Linked DNA regions of Homo sapiens. The protein of the gene in region 3 purifies or fractionates together with the protein of the main gene of each other region. This does not show direct contact. Each region holds a gene or a part of one and is shown on either strand. Other genes may lie near its edges.

What was found.
Region 1: the proteins of CCDC74B (region 3) and RGPD5 purify together in Homo sapiens (affinity purification with mass spectrometry, with the first as the bait; 2 studies listed by BioGRID). This does not show direct contact.
Region 2: the proteins of CCDC74B (region 3) and THNSL1 purify together in Homo sapiens (affinity purification with mass spectrometry; 3 studies listed by BioGRID and IntAct, with this or other methods). This does not show direct contact.

What each region holds. Positions count from the first base shown.
Region 1 is NC_000002.12:109,789,157-109,797,338, reverse strand, and holds the start of RGPD5 (RANBP2-like and GRIP domain-containing protein 5/6), read right to left. Parts: upstream 3,035-8,182; 5' UTR 2,874-3,034; coding exon 2,802-2,873; intron 1-2,801.
Region 2 is NC_000010.11:25,011,884-25,019,677, reverse strand, and holds the start of THNSL1 (threonine synthase-like 1), read right to left. Parts: upstream 3,067-7,794; 5' UTR 2,986-3,066; exon of another isoform or gene 2,889-2,985; intron 1-2,888. Other genes in the region: ENKUR (enkurin), read left to right, coding at 3,742-3,818.
Region 3 is NC_000002.12:130,138,501-130,142,196, forward strand, and holds the end of CCDC74B (coiled-coil domain-containing protein 74B), read right to left. Parts: coding exon of another isoform or gene 3,684-3,696; coding exon 3,633-3,683; intron 2,880-3,632; coding exon of another isoform or gene 2,854-2,879; exon of another isoform or gene 2,838-2,853; coding exon of another isoform or gene 2,797-2,837; coding exon 2,658-2,796; intron 1,872-2,657; coding exon 1,679-1,871; intron 1,597-1,678; coding exon 1,523-1,596; intron 1,448-1,522; coding exon 1,391-1,447; intron 1,191-1,390; coding exon 1,055-1,190; 3' UTR 787-1,054; downstream 1-786.

The DNA.
Region 1 (8,182 bases), about 20 Mb from region 3:
TTATCTGACCAGTTTGACCACATTTGAGGGTTTAAATTGCTGAGTTTAAGTAAGCAAGTAGTAACACAACATACAAGCAAACCAAAAAATAAAGCAATTATTCAGTCCAGGAAAACGTGGGTGCAGCACACCAGCATGGCACATGTATACATATGTAACTAACCTGCACAATGTGCACATGTACCCTAAAACTTAAAGTATAATAAAAAAAAAACAACAAAAAACTGCACAACAAGGGCAATTCAAATGCAAAAATATTTACCTTCTATTTATATAAATGTTAACTATTCATTTAAACAAAAACTGCAGTAACAGTACTGAAAGAATGAGGGGCAAACCAAAGTGTCTGAGGACAGTTTTGGAGGAGCATAATAGCCAGTACAGAATGTCTAAAATGGGGCCGGGCGCGGTGGCTCACGCCTGTAATCCCAGCACTTTGGGAGGCTGAGGCGGGCGGATCATGAGGTCAGGAGATCGAGACTATCCTGGCTAACACGGTGAAACCCCGTCTCTACTAAAAATGCTAAAAAATTAGCCGAGTGTTGTGGCGGGTGCCTGTAGTCCCAGCTACAGGCTGGGGCAGGAGAATGGCGTGAACCCCGGAGGCAGAGTTTGCAGTGAGCCGAGATCGCGACACTGCACTCCAGCCTGGACGATAGAGCGAGACTCCGTCTCAAAAAAAAAAAGAAAAGAAAAGAAAAGAAAATGTCTAAAATGGGAGAAAGGGAATTAAAAATAACAAAAGTATATATGTGTGTTACTCAGAAGTATGAAGTATAGATGTAAAGGGCAGAAAAAACAACTAACAGCTGTCAAAGGTGCCTGCCTGTAGTCCTAAGTACTCAGCAGACAGAGGTAGGAGGATCATTTATGCCCAAAAATTTGATGGGCAACACAGCAAGACCCTATTCTAAAAAAAATACAAATAAAAATAAGAGCTGTCAAGTAGACTTTGAGAAGTAGGAATCAGCTGCAGAATAAGAAACCGACTTGACAGAACATAGAAAAACTAAACAGAAGCCATCTGGAAAAAGAAAAACTAGAGAAAGAATTATATTTTTTTTCTTTTTTTCTTTTTTGGAGACAGAGTCTCGCTCTGTCACACAGGCTGGAGTGCAGTGGCGCAATCTCTGCTCACCACAACCTCTGCCTCCAGGGTTCAAGCAATTCTCCTGTCTCAGCCTACCGAGTAGGTGGGACTACAGGCGCTGCCACCACGCCCGGCTCATTTTTGTATTTTTAATAGAGACGGATTTTCACCATATTGGTCAGGCTGGTCTCTCGGCCTCCCAAAATGCTCGGATTACAGACGAAGAATATTTTTAAGAAGGGCAAAAGCACATGTGAGGGAGTAGAAAAATGGCAAAACAAGAGGAGACTAACAAATGAAAGCGCAATGGAAGACTAGAAAGATATGATATACAGACGCATCATCACACTCCAAAACTCCGACATTCTAGAAAGCATGGGCAGTTCACAGATGGCCAGCCTCTGCCAAACTGGGGGAGAATACTAACCTCTTCATATTCTTCACAGCCACTGCCTCTTCTCCCTCCATTCTTTACCTTCTATCCAAAGCACCCTGTTTTGTCATTTCACTCAAACCTAACTTCACAGAATAGCTTCACATGTTCCAGTTACTCACTAGTTAATCCATATTCCGCTGAAATCCCCAGGTTCTAATGTAAATGACTTTAAATTTGGGGGAAAAAAAAGACTCTAAATGTAAGAGAGGTGTCATAATAACCAATCGTCAAAATTCTGCCACCACTCCACTTTATTTAATGGAGAAGTTATGTAGTTGAAAGAACATTCTAACTTCTGTCTAGACCAGTGGTTTTTAATCTTTTGGAAGCCAAGGTCCCCACTAAGAATCTCAGAAAGGCTCCAAACTTGCTTTTTTTTTTTTTAAGCTTGTTTAAAAAAAAAAAAATCAGGCTGAGCAGAGTGGCTCACACCTGTAATCTCAGCATTATTTACATGTAAAGAGGAAAAATACCCTTAAAACATCTGTGGAAAAGGTTAAAAATTGCAAGCCATACTAACGATTTGTAAGAACTTTAGAATTTTTTTTTTTTAAGCAAAGGCAGCTACCAAAGTGTTCCGGGCGGGGAGGGGGGCGAGGGAGGTGAGTATGAGGAGTGGAGTGGAGCTGGACCCTTACAAAGGGACAGCGACAAACACCTCATACTCAAAACAAGGGGACTTTCCGTGTCATTTGCGCCGTCGGGCCATTGCAAATGTCCGCGCTGAGATGCCTACCTTGTCACTCGACGCAGCCGCCAAAGCTCACCCGGAGCTGCGTCAGTCCCCACTGGGTTCCTCCAGGCCAAGGAGGTACGACCTCCGCCGCAGCATATAAAGTAAATGTCCAGGAGATGGGAAGAAACCCGCCGATACAGCACCCGGGTGCCCAAGCCCCCGAGAACTAGGCCGCGCGGGTACTACGGGGTGCGCGATCGGCCAGAAAGCCCGGGCCAGGACGGGCCCAGGAGCGAGCACCGTCGGGAACAAGCGTCGGGAACAAGCCGGGATTAAGAGGAAGCGCCGGCGCCAACGGTCTCCCGCCCGCCGCGGTCCCCCCAGGACTCTTCCTGCGCTTGCAAGCGCCACGCCGCCCACAGGACTGCGCCAGCCGGCCGGCGCCTCAACAGAGCGCGCCACGGAGCAGCGCCCCTCGGGAGACATGACGCCTGAGCCATCGAGGCGGCCGCCGCCGCCGCCCCCCCCGCCGCCGCCGCCGCCGCCGCCGCCCCCCGGCCGGGTCGAGGCCGCCGTCGCTCTCTTCGAGACCCACTCACCTGTCGAGGCGACGGGGTGAGACCCAGCACCGAGGCGACGTACCGCTCCACATCGGCCTTGCTGCGCCTCATCGCGCCGCCAACCTGGCTCCCGAGACGCGTGCGAGCACCGCTCAGCCCCGCAGCAGTCGCCACTTCCAAGAGGAAAGTGCCTGCAAGCCACTGAAGCAGCGGCGTAGCCGGCGGAGGCCCACTGTGACGAGCGTGCGGCGCCGCCCACGGAGGCCCACTGTGACGAACCTGCGTTCTGCCTCAGCACTGTGTATCCTCGGCGACGTCGGCGCTCCAGCTGCACTCGGCCGGGCTCGTGGCGCCGCCCTGTGGTCTGAGGGTGTCTTGACATGATCTTATCTATAGAAAACCTTAATGAAACCTCGAAAAAAAAAGACCTAAACTATCAGTGATAATAAATGAGTTCAAAGAGATTGTACCATACGAGGTCAACTAAAAAAATGAGATGTCTACTTATACACCAGCAAGGAACAATTCAAGTAAAATTAAGTAAACAATTCCATTTATAATATTATCAAAAATAATAAAATAATTATGAATAAATTTAACCCAAAAGTGTAAGACTTGTAGACTGGAAACTACAGAACACTGTTGAAGGAAATTAAAGAGGAGCTAAATCAATGGAAAGACATCCTGTGTTCATTAATTGGATGTAAACATGTCTACACAAAAACTTGTATACAGGCCAGGCATAGTGGCTCACGCCTGTAATCCCAGCACTTTGGGAGTTTTTGATGGGAGGATCACTTGAGTCCAGGAATTTGAGACCAGCCTGGGCAACACAGCGAGACCCCCATCTCTACAAAAAAGAAAAAACAAAAACAAAAGAAAACCTATACATGAATGTTTATAGCAGTACTATTTTTATTAGTAAAAGGTGGAAACAATCCAAATTTCCATCTACTGAAGATGGATTTTTAAAATGTGGTATTATTGGGCACAGACACACGTGCCTGTAGGCCCAGCTACTGGGGAGGTTGAGGCAGGAGGGTCGCTTGAGCCGGAGAGTTTGAAGCTGCAGTTTGCAGCTGCAGTGATGCTCCTTGATCCATGCAGGAGCTGTGATCAGGCCTGTGAAGAGCCACTAAACTCCAGCCTGGGCGACATAGTGAGATCTCTGTCTCAAAGAAAAATGTGGTATAGCCATACAATAGAATATTACTTTTGCATAAAAAATAATGAAGTACCAATGCATACTACAACATGAATCAGCCTTGAAAACATTATTCTAAATTAAAGGTGCCAATCACAAAACCTCATATATCATTTCATTTATATGAAATATCCAGAGTAGGCAAACTCAAAGACACAGAAAGTAGACTAGTGATTGCCAAGGGCTGGGTGGAGGGGAAATCTGGGAGTGCATGTGACTGCCAACGTGAATGGAGTCTCTCGTTGGGGTGATAGAGATATTTTGGAATTAGATTTTGGGGAAGGCTGTAAAACATTGCAAATTTACTAAAAAAAAAAAAATCATTGAATGAAATTAAATCCTATGGAGATGATAGGTATTTTCATTTTGGCCAGGCAATCTACCTGATTAGGTTCAAGCCACAAGTTCCCACCCCTCCATTCTGCAGTCTGGTTCCAAAGTCAGTTCAGTGTCCAGAGTCTTCACAGGACTATTCAGTTCTGTCTGACTTGTGCACCACCCAGTGGCCAGTTGTGTCTGTGGGTGATGGTCTCTCAGTTCAGCTGTCAATCTTTGGTGTGTTGAACAGGACGAGATCTATGCAGGAGCAGCTCAAGAATGAGCCCTGGGGTTTATAGACAGGTTAATGGGGTTGCTTCACTGATTAACTCTCTCTCAGCAATTACCCTGTTGCTTTCATTTGCTGAGGCTTCTCTTTTTAGTCTTCCAAGCAGAAAACAGGCTTTCGGTATCTGGCTCTACCATGCATTTCTACATCTGAAGCCAAGCAGTGGGAGGACTGAATTGGAAGAGAAGCAACATGGATTGTTTCTGCCCTCTTGGGACCACAGCTCTGTCAGTTGGAGAAGGTTCCCTCCTGCGTCTTGGCTCCTGGGCTCCTCTTGGGGCTGGTGCCAGTGCCACTGTGGGACTGCTTGTGGGCTGAGGTATGAGAGAACAGGGAAAAGAAAAATGGGGAGGAACGAACTTCTGGATTCCCTCGGAATGTTAGGAGACCCTTTTCCCGTTACTTGAGCCAGAAATAGAGGGCATCTTCTGGAGCTCTTTCTATCTGCACCCTGGTGCCCACTGCCAGGTTAGTCACGGGATGCCATAGGGGAAACATGGTTATCTCACCACCGGTTTGGTGGTACTTCAAGTTCTGGTCTTCTTGGGAAAGCTGCCTGCAACTATTTAGTTTTCAATGTCTTCCAATAGCTGCTCCATGCATTCTGTACTGTCTCCTGGCTGGACTCCATGCAGGAAGCCTGTCTCCTCCACAGTGTGCACTCACTCAGGTCATTGCTAAGTTTTATTGTTGGCATTTGTTTGCTTTAATTTTTCAGACTGACTCCCTAGAGGTCGCTTCTTGTTTGCATAGTTCGTCAGTCAAACATCAGTTAAAGCCAATATGGTTTCCACCATCTGCTGCTGGATCTATGTGCAATGGGGAGGAGGCACGCCCCGGGCCATTTGCAAGGGTGTTCCGGCTTTTACTTCCTAACACTGGCACCGGCACACACACAGGCTGTGTGCCCTGGGCATATGGACATGGCTTGGGCTTGCTCTAATCTCTGCCAGCTATGAGCCTTCAGTCCATTTGGGTAGTGTGAAGAGTTTACTAAGCTCCCTCTGGCTCTCCGACCTCCCGGAGCTCCCTCTTACATCCATGACTAATCTGCAGGTCGTTTGCTCGTCTCCAAAGGCCCAGAGCCTCAGGCTAGGAGTCAGTGGCCTTTCTTCCTCCTGGTCACTGATATCACCACCTTAACTAGCCATGCTGCAAATCAAAACCTTCCTCACTCTTGCCTCCAGCCCCTGCAGCGAGGTGGCAGGGGAGCTTATCTCCACAGGCTGCCCTGCTGGGGGCCGCTGTGTGTGTTATCAACAGCTGGGGTAAATGGGGGTAGCAGCCTGGGCAAAGATGCCACGGACACAGGCTGGTCTTATCCAAGGCTCACTTTAATTCTTCTTTTTTTTCTTTAGGGACAGGGTCTGTCTCACTCTGTTGCCCAGGTTGGAGTGCAGTGGTGTGATCACAGCTCACTGCAGCCTCAATCTCCTGGGCTCAAATGATTCTCCCGCCTTAGCCTCCCATGTAGCTGGGACCACAAGTGTGCACCACCATGCCTTTTTTGATTTTTTTTTTGTACAGACGGGGGTCTCACCAAGTTGCCCAGGCTGTTTTTGAACTCCTGAGCTCAAGTGGTCCTTCTGCTTCAGCCTCCCAAAGTGCTGGGGTTACAGGCGTGAGCCACCGCGCCTGGCCAGCTTTCATTCTTAAACACATCCCCATTTGTGCCGTGCCTTTGGTAAAATTGCAGAATGCTAAATGGTTTGTCCAGCTATACAGTTACATTTTGGAAAGATTTGTTGACCTCCTCACTTCATCATGCTAGAAGTGGGAACTTTGATTACTCTTTAAAGAATCTGAAGATGAAGGGAAGACCAACGCATAATTTGAGAGAATGGCAAGACTGAGAAAGGTTTCTGTAGCATGGTGCATGCATGTGTGTGTGCGTGTGTAGGGAGAGGCAAAGGGTTCTGACAAGAGGAAGAGGCTGAGGAAGCAGGCTCATCTCCACAACATGCTGCTGCCACCCAATCATAGGGTCTCTTGCAGCAATTCCAGTCCTGATCTCACAAACCTCATACCCTAACTACGGTCCCCCTAATTGGGGTCCCTCCTCAGAGCTTTCCTAAGGCTCCCTAACTTTTCCCCTCACCTCGGTTGAGGCCTCCATGGTTTGGACTTGCTGGTTTTGCCTTGCTCTTCCCTTGATAAATACACCATTTATTCCGGTTCAGCCCTTGGAACTTTAAACCTTAACCCAAGCCTCCTCCACCCCACTATATTAGCCCAAGCCTAGAGTATCAGATCTGGATATTTGGGTAAAGATGCAGACAAATTTTGAGTTGGAAAAGAAAGAACTTAACTCATTACTAAAAGATGACCTTGATAGCTATATATATGGGAAACAAGAATGTATCAGGAAGTTAATCCTTTGCTCACACTACACCTGGTGCATGTAATTCCATCTCTGAGTTTTCCCCTTATTATTATTATCTTTTTTTGAGATGGAGTCTCACCTTATTGCCTAGGCTGGGGTGCAATGGCACAATCTTGACTCACTGCAACCTCCGCCTCCTGAGTTCAAGCGATTCTCCTGCCTCAGCCTCCCGAGTAGCTGGGAGGCTCAGACACAACCTCCTGGGCTCAAGTGATCCTCCCACCTCAGCCTACCTAGTGGCTGAGACTACAGGAATGTGCTGCCCTGTCCGGCTTGTTTTTGTTGTTTTAATTTTTATTTTACTTCCCAGGACTCTAAAAGACTTGCTGACCTATTAACACACAAACTAGTGCCCACTTCCCTACTCCCCATCTTGTCACTTTGTCCCCACCCAGTCCCTTGCTACCCCTCCCATCCCCTCAGTGTGACTAAGTTGCTGGAGGTACCCTGCCCCATCCTTAATTTCTTGCCCCAGGCCCTGCTGGGCCCCCCGTCTCTGCCCTGCCTGCCTCAGCTCCCCTCTGTCTCTCGGCCTTTTCACCTCCATGCTCCCAGCCTCACATCCTTGGAGCCAAGTTTGCCTCTCACAAAGCATGGCCCCCTACGGTCCCCAGCACCGCTGGTGCCAGGGCCATCCTGCCCCGCCATTGTGTCCTCACATTCCCCAACACTGAACTCAGGTTTCCCCTGGGGGGCTGAGCTGTCTTCCCTCAGTCACGCCTTCCTCCCCATGCAGGCTCATCCAGTCCCTCTGCCCTGCTCCAGTACCCTCTCCCCACCTTTCACCGTGGATCAGGCCCACAAGGTCACCTAGGGACGTTTTATATCCAAAGTAACATGACAACATCTCCTCCTGCACTGTCTAGTCACATGCTCTGAGGTCAACAGTGGTGCGTCCACTAATAACACATTTCATACTATTCAGCACAACTCACAACCCTGCAAACATAGATTAAAGGAAAAATGCCGGAATATGGGACGGATGGCTAAGCATTCTAATTTGAATGAGCACATTTAAAACTACAAGGGAAAACTATCACTAGGTTCACCTCAGAGGACATCTGGGTTTTCTTTCAAGGAAATGAGCAACTGGACACACTGAGACCCTCCTTCTGGGTTAAGGGCCCAGCATGCTTCCCCTGGGCTGCCTACCATATGCTGTTCTCCTCTCCCTGCTGTTCCTCAGTCTGACACACACACCTGCAGTGGTGGCCTGGTGAAGGGAT
Region 2 (7,794 bases), on a different chromosome or scaffold from region 3:
AATCTGCAGATGTGCAAGTCCTTTATATAAAATGGTGTAGTATTTGCATATAACCTGTGCACATCCTCCTGTATACCTTAATCTCTGAATAACTTATAATACATAATACAATGCAAATGCTAGGTACAGAGCTGTTGTACTAATTTGCTTTTTTGTTTGTGGTATTTTTACTGTTCCATTATTTTCGTGTTTTTGTTTGTTTTTCAGACAGGCTCCCACTCTGTTGCCCAGGCAGGAGTGCAGTGGCACAATCTTGGCTCACTACAGCCTTGACTTCCTAGGCTCAAGCAATCCTCCCACCTCAGCCTCCCAAGTAGCTGGGACTAAAGGCACGCACCACCACACCCAGCTAATTTTAGTATTTTTAGTAGAGAGGGGGTTTCGCCATGTTGCCCAGGCTGGTCTCCAACTCCTGGGCTCAAGCAGTCTTCCTGCCTTGGCCTTCAAAAAGTGCTTGGATTGCAGGTATGAGCCACTGTGCCCAACTAAAATTTTAAAATATTTTCAATCTGTAATTAGTTGAATCTGAGAATGGGAAATTCACAGATATGGAGAACTAACTGTGTATCAGGACACAAACTAGCCAAAAGGAGGTTAAGCTCTACTGCTTCTGACTTCTGACCAAAAATTCTCTCAAACTTTTCATTCAGAGGGCCTCCCACTTGCCATGAAACAGAGGTGAGGGTGGAAGGACCACACAATCCAGTATAGTTCTGTAATCACAAGGATCTCACAACTAAAACAATTTTGCAAGTTCATCACTTAGTCTTTATATTACTATCAAAGCTGACTAAGCTTTTTCTGCCGTTAGACTTCTGCTGTTAGACATATTCTTAACGATCTCGAATATTTAATTGAAAACTTTAGTATCCACAATTCTATAACTTTGAGAATTATAAAGAACCTGTCTTTATAAAGGGTTTATTTACCTTCCAATTGTCTTATATACTCATCTACACCCATTTTATTCATTTAAATAGATTAAAATAATCCTTCGCAAAAAAAAAAAAAAAAAAAACAACTCTCATTTGTTTATGTACATCACAGGCATACCATTATATACGGGGATCTAGGATCTGTGCAAACTACAATCCACAGGCTAAATCTGGCCCACCATCATTTTCATAAATCAAGTTTCTTTGAAGCACAACTTCAGTCATTCATGTGCTCACATATTTGTTCAGTACCGTCTTTGGCTGCTTTTGAGCTACAATGGCAAAACTGAGTAGTTGCAACATAACCACTTGGCCTAAAAAGGCCTGAAATATTTACTGTCTACCCCTTTATAGACAGTTTGTTCATCCCTGTAGGTATATACCAGTTAATTCCCTGTGGACATGCGGTGGACACAGGCATTTTTTTGAAGTGTCATTTCAAGAGCATTATAAAAACTAGAAATAATTTTGCTTAAACACACTTTCAAAAGGCAAGGAGAATTGCAGATCAAATGTCTAAGAAAAAAGAAAAGTTTTTTTCCAAATGATTTAACAACCTGCTCATGGCTGTAAACTAACTATACCACAGTGAGGTCTTGCACAAATTGTTTAGCATTTTTTAAAGCATAATAAATATACAGACATCAGTGAAATTATTTTATTTCAGTAACCCCAGAACATCAAGGCTACCAAAGGCCAGTTGGTGCTAACTGCAGAAATCATGTTTTGCCCTTACTTGCTATTTCAGGAACTGATTAACACAAATAGTCTCAAGGTGTTCCTTCTAATTAGAAAATTCATAAGCTTTAGCCAGTGACTATCCACTTGGCTAATGGCGTTATCATTCCATGAGTCCTTGGTTCGAATCTTCGTACATACAGGAGGTTTCCCGCCAAATTTTTTCTCTATACTTGCTAAACAGAAATCCCAAACATAAAATACTCAAGGGCGAAAAGAAAGGGGCAAAGTGATATAGATTTGGATCTAGATCTAAATATAGATCTACAGATCCATCTATCTAAAATGTTTTGGAAGACAATCTGATGTGAAGAAATCTGGAGAATTTTCCCTAAGCGTCTGGGACAAAAATTAAAATCAACTGTATACAAAAAAAAAAAAAAGAAAAACTTAACGTATTCTTATGTAGTGAAATTCAGTAAGAGCCCAAAGTAAGGACCTACACATTCAGTAAAGCCTTTTTATACAGGAACTAAAAGGTTCACCAGGCCATTGTGTTGTTTTAATCACTCCGCCAGCCAACCAGGCAGTGAGAAACCCAGACTCAAGTGTGTTTTCTCTCCTCTCCGGGAAGCTTTATTTCCTTCGGGCAGAGTGGCCTCTGTACCGGTGGTTCAGAGGCATCCATCTTCCTCCCCAAATCCTATTACCAAAATGTCTTTTAAACACTCGGGTAAAAGCGTCTAAATGACTTTCCTACGGCAGGCCCATGTGCATAGATTTACGGGTGACCAGGTGGAACAAAAAGGAATAAAACCGCTTCTCAGAAGACAATTTTCCAACAAGGGACACCAAAAACTGGACAAAAACGTAAAGGCCCACTTAAAAGGCTTCTCCTCTTAGTTTAGGCTGCTCATTTACAAAGAGCAGGTCCACTGGTTCCTGGAGAACGACCTAGAGGAAGAGTCCCGACCCGGGGAAGAGCAGGCGCAGAGCCGACCCGGAGGACCGCCCAAGGGGCGGTCCCGGGAGCAGGGGCGGGAGGGCGAGCGCAGCAGGCGGAGGAGGCCGCGGGCCCCGTGCGCGCACTCACACACGTGGCGGGCAGGGCTGCGCGGCGTTCCGAGGAGCCTCGACCAGAAGCAGCAGGAAAAATGCGCGCAGAGTTGAGATGACCAGCGAGTAGCGGAAAGGGGAAGGGACGGTACGGGGAAAGGCATGCGATGGGAGCGGGCTGGCTTCTAGTTTTCCTTCCTTTCTCCTCCAATAACTCACCAAGGAAATCTCACTGAGAAGACGGGGGAAATGAAAGGAAATGGGGGAGCAGTGTCCACGAGCCGCTAAAGCCTCCACAGGAGACGGAGCACCGTACCTGCAGCTAGCTCCCCGGTCCCGCCCCCGCGCAGTGGACTCTGCGCCTGTGCCTGCGGCGGCCAGCGTGCCTCCGCTCCACGCCCTTCCCCGAGCGGCCTCGCGCAGGGCACGTGACTCTCCTTTCTCACTGTAGCCTATCCGAGCACTCCGATCTCCTCAGGCTCCTCCCCTCCCTCGTCTCCCTGGCGGCGCTGGCCTTGCGTCCTCGTGGTCTCAGCCGCTCGCTCCGCCCACACCGCGATTGGGGCCTGCTCACAAAAACCTTATTGGGTGACGCCTGCGCACCAGCTGCGCTTTGCCGTCTCTACTAGGATTTTTCTTTTTTCCCCAGATACACAGAAATAGAAAAGAGCACAGTTTTTAAGGGGACATCATTTTCACCCCGTTAACTTTCAAAGGCACGTAAAAACAGTGGCTTCCAAATGAGCTTCTCTAGCAGAAGGCGCTGCAGAAAGAGGGAAGAGGGGAGACCTAGTTTGCGGTGCTGCCTGCCACTTCCTCGTTGCCTAGTAACGGTTTCCACGGCAACCGCACAGTCAACGACGCTTAGCAATCCGGAGAGAAATAGGGTGTTTTCTTCCCGAGAGAGGACTGCTAAGAGGGGGTTAAAGGGGGACGATGTGAAGGAGAGAACCTGTGGTCCTTCAGAAGGCGAAGAAGAAAGAAAGGGGAAGCAGTGAAGAAAGGGACGGAGATACTGGGACAGGGAGAAAAAAGTTGTGGAGAGTAGCTTTTAAGGAGTCATTTGGTGGCCATGGATCCAACGTGCTCTTCTGAGTGCATTTATAACCTCATACCCAGTGACTTGAAGGAGCCTCCCCAGCCTCCTAGGTATGTGGATAAGCAAAGACTATCACTTGAAACAAGAATGGGGAATACTCAGTATTAATTAAGCATACATATACTGGAATTTTTAATAATAAATAAAATGTATTTTTGCCTCGATGAAGTAGCCTTGGAGGATAACTTGTTAGAGAAAAGGTCGAAATATCTAGGTATTCAGCATCTCACAGTTTTACAGAGAGGGCAGTCTGGCGCTGTGAGATGACCATTTTATTATATTACACTTAACCTCTTATTAATACGGTATGTGATTATTGTGTAATTTAATTATATGTGATATACAGCATAGTATGAAGTTTCATGTTGAAAAGAAAAAAATCACAATTCTATTATCTTGTTTAAGGATACTTGATGTTTGGTTTCAGGAGTTCGGTGTTGTATTTCTAACTGCACTACTCCCTCTCTAATGGGATAGGATAGGACTTTTCCCCCAAGATTTTTATGAAATATAAATTTACATTTGCTTTTGAGCCTCAGGTTTTTGATCAGTGAAACGAAATATCTACCACTATTAGGCAGTTTCTAAGGACTTTTTCAGATCTAATGGTTTAAATGGAAGGAAGAATTGGTGGATAGATAATGAACCAAAAAATATGTAATTGAGTTGAAATTTTACATAGGTCTTAGAACCTCTTAAATTCTCCAAATCTCAAAAACGTGCAAAGGAAGCACTTCAGTTACTCCCATCTGTAGGGACTTCTTAGAACTTACTTAAATCTGTGGGGAGCAAAGAAAGTAGTGGAGAAAATCTCATTTCTCCTAGGACTTGAAATGTTTCCTGTCTTTTACCATCATCCTTGTCCGTATGCAAGTCAAAACCACATTTGAAAAGGACTGGACTAAAAATCGGGCCTAGCAATTAATTGTCTTTGTGAACTTTAGAATAAAGTTTCATTTGTTTACTGATCTGTGAGATAAATGTACCAGATAATATCCAAGGCCCCTTTTAGATCTAATGGTCAATTATTTTTACTAGTATTAGGGTAATAGCTTCAACAAGTAGGCAGCTTCTTCAATTTTAAGTATCTGGTTTAAATTAGAGCAGTAACTGTATTACATCTCCATTAGCATATCAACATCTAGAGACTGGAAAGAGGAATGTAAAGTAAGTTATGGCACAGTTGCAGAATTTATTTTCAAATTTTCTATTGTTGCACCAACTTTTGGTTTCAAATTCCTGCATATTACATGAGATAAAACTCCTCTATAACAGATTGGTAGATTGTATTTCTATAGAATATTGAATTTGAGAGTTATTTTATTAGGTAGGTATTCTGTTCTTTGGCAAATTAAAAAGCTTTACTGCATCTAGACGATTTTTTTTTTCAAAAAAAATTTATAGGAACAGTCTTTATTCATTTGGCAAGCATTAATGGAGCCCCTATTATGTGTATAATATTGCACTAGTATATCTGTTCTTGGTGCTGTTGGAGTGATAGCACAGACTTCTTGGTTTTACTATGAAGAAATGAGTAGAAGAAAGATTTATGATTAGAGGAAATAGAGGCACCCAAATGTGATGCCAAAAGAATCATTTCTGTTAGGTTAAAGTCAATTTACACTGGCAAGATTCTGACAACTGCCTGGCTTTTGATCTCCCACGCCTCAGAGTTTACCGTCTTTTTGGGGAACTGAAATATGAACACTAAAATTTATCATTGAAAACCATAATGAGAGATGAAGATACTAAATGAGAACTTAGAAGATGAATGTATGTGACCAAAATCGGATGAAAGGCACTTTTCTGCAGTTGAACTATTGGCTGAGACTTAAGTTATGAAAGCCTCAGAGTCAATGGGAAGTCATGATTCAGTTTTCAAAATTTGAGTTACTCATGATGCATAAGATGGTTTCCAAGATTTTCACCAAATCTGTCACCCTTTTTTTTTTAATTACTTTTTTTTCAAGACGGAGTTTCACTCTTTTTGCCCAGGCTGGAGTGCAATGGCGCCATCTTGGCTCACTGCAGCTTCTGCCTCCTGGGTTCAAGCGATTCTCCTGCCTCAGCCTCCCGAGTAGCTGGGATTACAGGTCCCTGCTACCATGCCTGGCTAATTTTGTATTTTTAGTAGGGATGGGGTTTCACCATGGTGGCCAGGCTGGTCTTGACCTCCTGACCTCCAGTAATCCACCCACCTCTGCCTCCCAAAGTGCTATGATTATAGGCGTGAGCCACCACGCCTGGCCTATCACCCTTTATTGATGTCTGCAGTTATTGAATATCTCCAGTCATCCCCTCTTTCCATTTTGTTTAAAGCAATATTCCAGTTATGGTCTGAACAGTCCATGAAACCATTATCTCCTTTCCATAATTCTTGGCACAATATTTTCATCCATTCAGCCTAAGCTTCCATAAGCATTTTGACAGTCATGTCCAACTATTGGCTCACACTAAAATACCCTGTATGGATTTTGACTAAGGTTGGTCTCTCCCATCCTCTAATTATGTAGCTGATTCTTTTTTATCTCAACTCATTAATCTATGGAGATAGTTTTGCATTTGAATCTTTTATACATTCTGTTAACCATTCTTTTTGTGTCATTTGCAAATTTAATAAATATGTCTTTTATATCTCTTATCTATCATAGAACATAGTATATTAGTCTGTTCTCACGCTGCTAATAAAGACATACTCGAGACTGGGTAATTTATATTTCAAAAGAAGTTTAATTGACTCACAGTTTCACATGGCTGAGGAAGCCTTACAATCATGGCAGAAGGCAAAGGCGGAGCAAAGTCACATCTTACATGGTGGCAGGAAAGAGAGTGTGTGCAGGGGAACTCCCCTTTATAAAACCATCAGATCTCATGAGACTTATTCACTATCATGAGAGCAGCACAGGAAAGACCCACTCCCATGATTCAATTACCTATCACCAGATCCCTCCCATGACATATGGGAATTATGGGATCTCATCAATTTAATGTGAGATTTGCGTGGGGATGCAGCCAAACCATATCATTCTACCCCAGCCCCTCCCAGATCTCATGTCCTCACATTTCAAAACCAATCATACCTTCCCAACAGTCCCCCAAAGTCTTAACTCATTTCAGCATTAACTCAGAAGTCCACAGTTCAAAGTCTCATTTGAGACCAGGCAAGTCCCTTCTGCCTACAAGCATATAAAATCAAAAGCAAGTTAGGTACTTCCCAGATACAATGGGGGTCCAGGCATTGGGTAAATATAACCATTCGAAATAGCAGAAATTGGCCAAAACAAAGGGGCTATAGGCCCCTTGCAAGTCCAGATTCTAATAGGGCAGTCATTAAACCTTAAAGTTCCAAAATGATCTCCTTTGACTCCATGTCTCACATCCAGGTCACGCTGATGCAAGAGGTGGGATCCTATGGTCTTGGGCAGCTCTGTCCCTGTGACCTGGCACAGTACAGCCCCCATTCCGGCTGCTTTCATGGGTGGGCATTGAGTGTCTGCAGCTTTTCTGGGTGCATGGTGCATGCTCTCAGTGGATTTACCATTCTGAGGTCTGGAGAACAGTGGCCCTCTTCTCACAGCTCCACTAGGCAGTGCCCCAGTGGGAATTCTGTGTGGGGGGCTCCCACCCCATATTTCCCTTCCACACTGCCCTAGCAGAGGTTCTCCATGAGGGCTCTGCCCCGAAGCACATCTTTGCCTAGACATCCAGACATTTTGATACAACCTTTGAAATCTAGGTGGAGGTTCCCAAACCTCAATTCTTGACTTCTGTGCACCCGTAGTCCCAACACCATGTGGAAGCCACCAAGGCTTGGGGCTCGCACCCTCTGAAGCAATGGCCTGAGCTCTACGTTGTCCCCTTTTAGCCATGGCTGTGACTCAGGGCACCAAGTCCCAAGATTGCACAAAGCAGCAAGGCCCTGGGCCCAGCCCATGAAACCATTTTTTCTCCTAGGTCTCTGGGCCTGTGATGGGAGGGGCTGCTGTGGAGACCTCTGACAGGCTCTGGAGACATTTTCCCCATTGT
Region 3 (3,696 bases):
CTGCCCTGGGCACCGGCCAGCAGCCCTTTGGTGACAAGAGTCGCCCCTTTTAATGCATACCACCCCATCATCTGTGATTGTTATAATCTTGTTATTCCTGTGTTTGTCAGGACTCGTCACTGTGTCCCCCACTCCATGAAACTGGGCCTGCTGTCCTGTTAGGATGCTGTAAGCCCCCGGGCCTGGGCTGTCCTTTCTGACGCACTGTCCCATTCCTTGGCCTGGTTCATCCCCAGCTTCCTGGCAAAGTTCTGCTCCCTGAAGCAGGAAGAGGCTGAGATTAATGCCAACGAAGTGGGCCGTGGGCCTGGGAAGACTGTGTGGCTGGCTGAGGGTGGGCACTAAGCTGGCCACCCCACCCCCGACATGGACATGGCTGTGCTGTGGCGGAAGGGGTGGTGCGGGCATGGCCACGGCACTCGAGACAGCCCTCCGAGGAGGAGGGCGAGCCTGGCTGGACCCCCTGTCTGCGGTGCTGTGTCAGGGCAGCAGAGGACAGCCTCTTGCCCCCAGGAGTGTGCAGTGTGGGCAAGAGACAGAGTGATCATGTGTTTGGAACGCAGCTCCAGCCCAGCCAGGGGACCAGAAAAGCCCTCCCGCTTCCAGGGAGGATGTGCATGGCTCTGCCAATGCCTGTCTCCCAGGGCCGCTGGCAGGTCCCAGGATGCGCAAGACTGGGCTGCCCAGGCAGGTCCCTGCAGACAGCGGGGCCTGGGCTAGAGGCCAAGGGCTGGGACTGGGAAGGGACGCGACGCCTGATAGCCAGTGAGGAGCCAGGCACACAACTTGGAAATAAACAAGCTTTATTTTCAGTTTCAACAGGTAAGGCGATACCTGCTTCATCGTGTGCTTTTATGTAAATGCCAAATAGCAAAATAACAGCTAGAAAATAAACAGTTTGTCAGTTTGGAGATCAAGTACTTTATCTATCTTGAGTGTTATCTATCTTGGAATTTAGCCAGGCCTAAAAGTAGCGGAAGTGTCAGGAAATGCTATAGAGAGCCAATCTCCAGCTGCAGGTTGGTGGGCCTGGCACTGACCAGATGCGGGTAGCTCAAAGCACCGAGCGATGCAGGCGCCGTTTCTGCATTGCCTGCAGCCTCTTCTGCCTCTCGGCAAAGTTGTTCTTCGGGGTCTGCTTCAGTGCGGGCAGGATGGCACGCTCCGCCACAGGTGGGCTCAGAAGCAGGCTGGGGGCGGGTAGAGGGACTGTCACCGTGAGCATCCTCGCGAGTGGAGTGTGTGGGGAGTGCGGCCTGCATGGCCCTCACGGGGGCACAGAGAGGCCTCAGCGAGCTCCGCTTCTGCGCTGCCACGCTCCCTTCCCCACTCCCTCCCTGGGGCCCAGGCTGCAGGGCTGCCCCACTGTCCCCATGCCTGTGGGACTTACCATTTCTTGGAGAGGCTCTTGGTGGAGACCTTGGGGAAATGCGTGGCTTCTTGGTCCCTGGGTGAAGGAAGAGTCAGCAGTGAGCTGTGGATAGGCCCCCAGGGATGGGGCAGGGGTGCACCAGGCACTCACCTGGGAAAGCTAGCTTCCTCCGGGACTGCCTGGGGCCTCTGGCTCCCTTCCAGGAGGGACTTGAGGTGCTGCAGCTGAAAGGCAGGGGCAGGGGCGTGGTGGGGCCTGTGGCGGTGCCAGACTGCCCAGGGCCACCCCCACCACCCAGGGCCTCACCTCTTGGGTCTGCAGGAGGTTGGTATTCCACAGCTCGCGGATGAGCACTTCGCACTGCCTAAGTGTGGTGGGCTTTCGCAGGGGAAGGGGCAGGATCATTGGGGGGTGTGCCGCCGCCCCCATCTGCCTGCCCTGGTGCTGGCTGTTCCCCATACAGGCAGCTCCTGCGTTAGAGGCCTCTGCTTTCTCCTTTCTGAAACAGTCATTGCAGCAGCCAGAGGTGACCTGCCCAGGTGCGTCTAACCACCCACCCAGCATACCTCCCCAGGCAGCGCCCAGGCCAATGTGGGGAAGAGGGCCTGGTTCCCCTCTCCCACTGAGCAGGGTGCTCTGGGCACCAGGTGGGGGTCTCTGGGACTGGGGCCTGTCCCTTTCTCCCCTCTGAAGGTGCCCTAAGGGTCAGATGGGCTTCAGTGGGTGACCAGCTAGCTGCCAGGCTGCTCTTGATCGTGACCCCACACCCAGTGGGGCATCTTGCTCCAGGCCTGGTCTCGGGATGTGCAGATGCAGGAGCCTGTCCTGCTGGTTGCGCTGCTGAAAGTGTGCGCTCTGTAGCATCTCAGGGCAGTCCCGCAAACTCAGGGATCACCAGAACCTGTTCCTACTCTGACCTGCTGGCCTAGTGCCCTCCAAAGGCAGGCTGTGGCCAGGGGCAGCAAGCCTTCTCTTGGTCAGAATATTACTTTACTTTTCTCTGAGGAAGTGGTTTAGGGGCCGCTACTGGCCCCCCTCGTGGGCTCAGGTCAGCACAGGTACTCTGCAGGACCCCCAGGGGAAGGGAGGAAGACAGCGCCCACCGATGGGTAGAGCGTGGCCGTCATCTGCTATCATGAGCCCTGGAGACAGGCCCCTGGAGCTAGGGGCAGAGCAGTTGGCTGACTGCAGGGCGTGAGCCTAGTAAATGTAGTCATGGGGCCCTTAGGGTGCAGGCAAGACTTACCTGGCCTGCCCTTGCACCCCAGGAACACCCAAGCCTTACCTGGCCTGCCCTTGTACCCCAGGAACCTTGTCCAGCTTGCTGTTGTGAAGTAGGGGCTCCTCTTCCAGGTCCGCCTTCTGGGGGACGTCAGCTTTTGAATCTTGCTTGTTGAAGGAGCCGGGCTGGGGCCTGGCCTTGCCTTGAGAGTTGGCTGCAAGTCAGACCCTACAAGGCCGGTCACTGCAGGCACCAACAGTCACCGCCCAAGTTTTCCAGGAACAGCTGTGTGTACCCAAGAAGCCCCTGTCCCTGCCTCAGTTTCCTCCTCTGTAAAGGGAAGCCTGCCTTGGAGGGTTCTGGGGGGAATCAATGTGGTTCTGAGGGTGAAGCCCATGGGTGGTGCCTGTGAACACTCTAGAACAATCAACATAGTGGAAGCTGGCCCCATCTTGGGTAAAATGAAACTGCATGAGAGGCTTGGGACCCAGCCTGCATGGGTTTCCTCGGCAAGGACAAGGCCCGTCCAGCACCTGGGCCCATCACAGGAATGGTGAGGGTTAGGGCTGGGCTGAGGAAAATGCCCGGCCTCACAGAGTGGGGAAAAGAGGCTCTCTGCTCCCAGTTCACTCTGCAGAAGGTGCCATGAGCCCAGGGCTCCGTGGGCAGTGCCATCCCTCCTGTGTCCTGCCTGCTTGTGGCGGGGACACGGCCAAGCAGGGCTGCTGCTGGGCAGCCAGGGTACGTCCTCCCTAGGCGGCCACCCGGGGAGGCCCCTCCTGCCTGCTTGCTGCCCCACCCTGGGGTGCCTGCTGTGAGGCCTTACTGCCCTGTGACTGGTCCCTGGTCCTGCCCACCCCCCCTTAATCCCCTCCCGGTGGCTTCAGCTTGCAGGGCTCTTTTCAGCTGCACCTTCATCCCCAAATCCTGGAGCTTGGCCCAGCAGAGGGTACCTGGTCAGCACCCCTAGAGGCCACCCAGGCTGGGGTCCCCGTGGGGCACTCACCCCTGTGAGCACATGGACGCCAGCCTGCTCACCTGAATTAGAGATGGACTTGACAGACTGGAAGCTTGACGTGGAGAGGCTGTCTGCAGGAGAGCG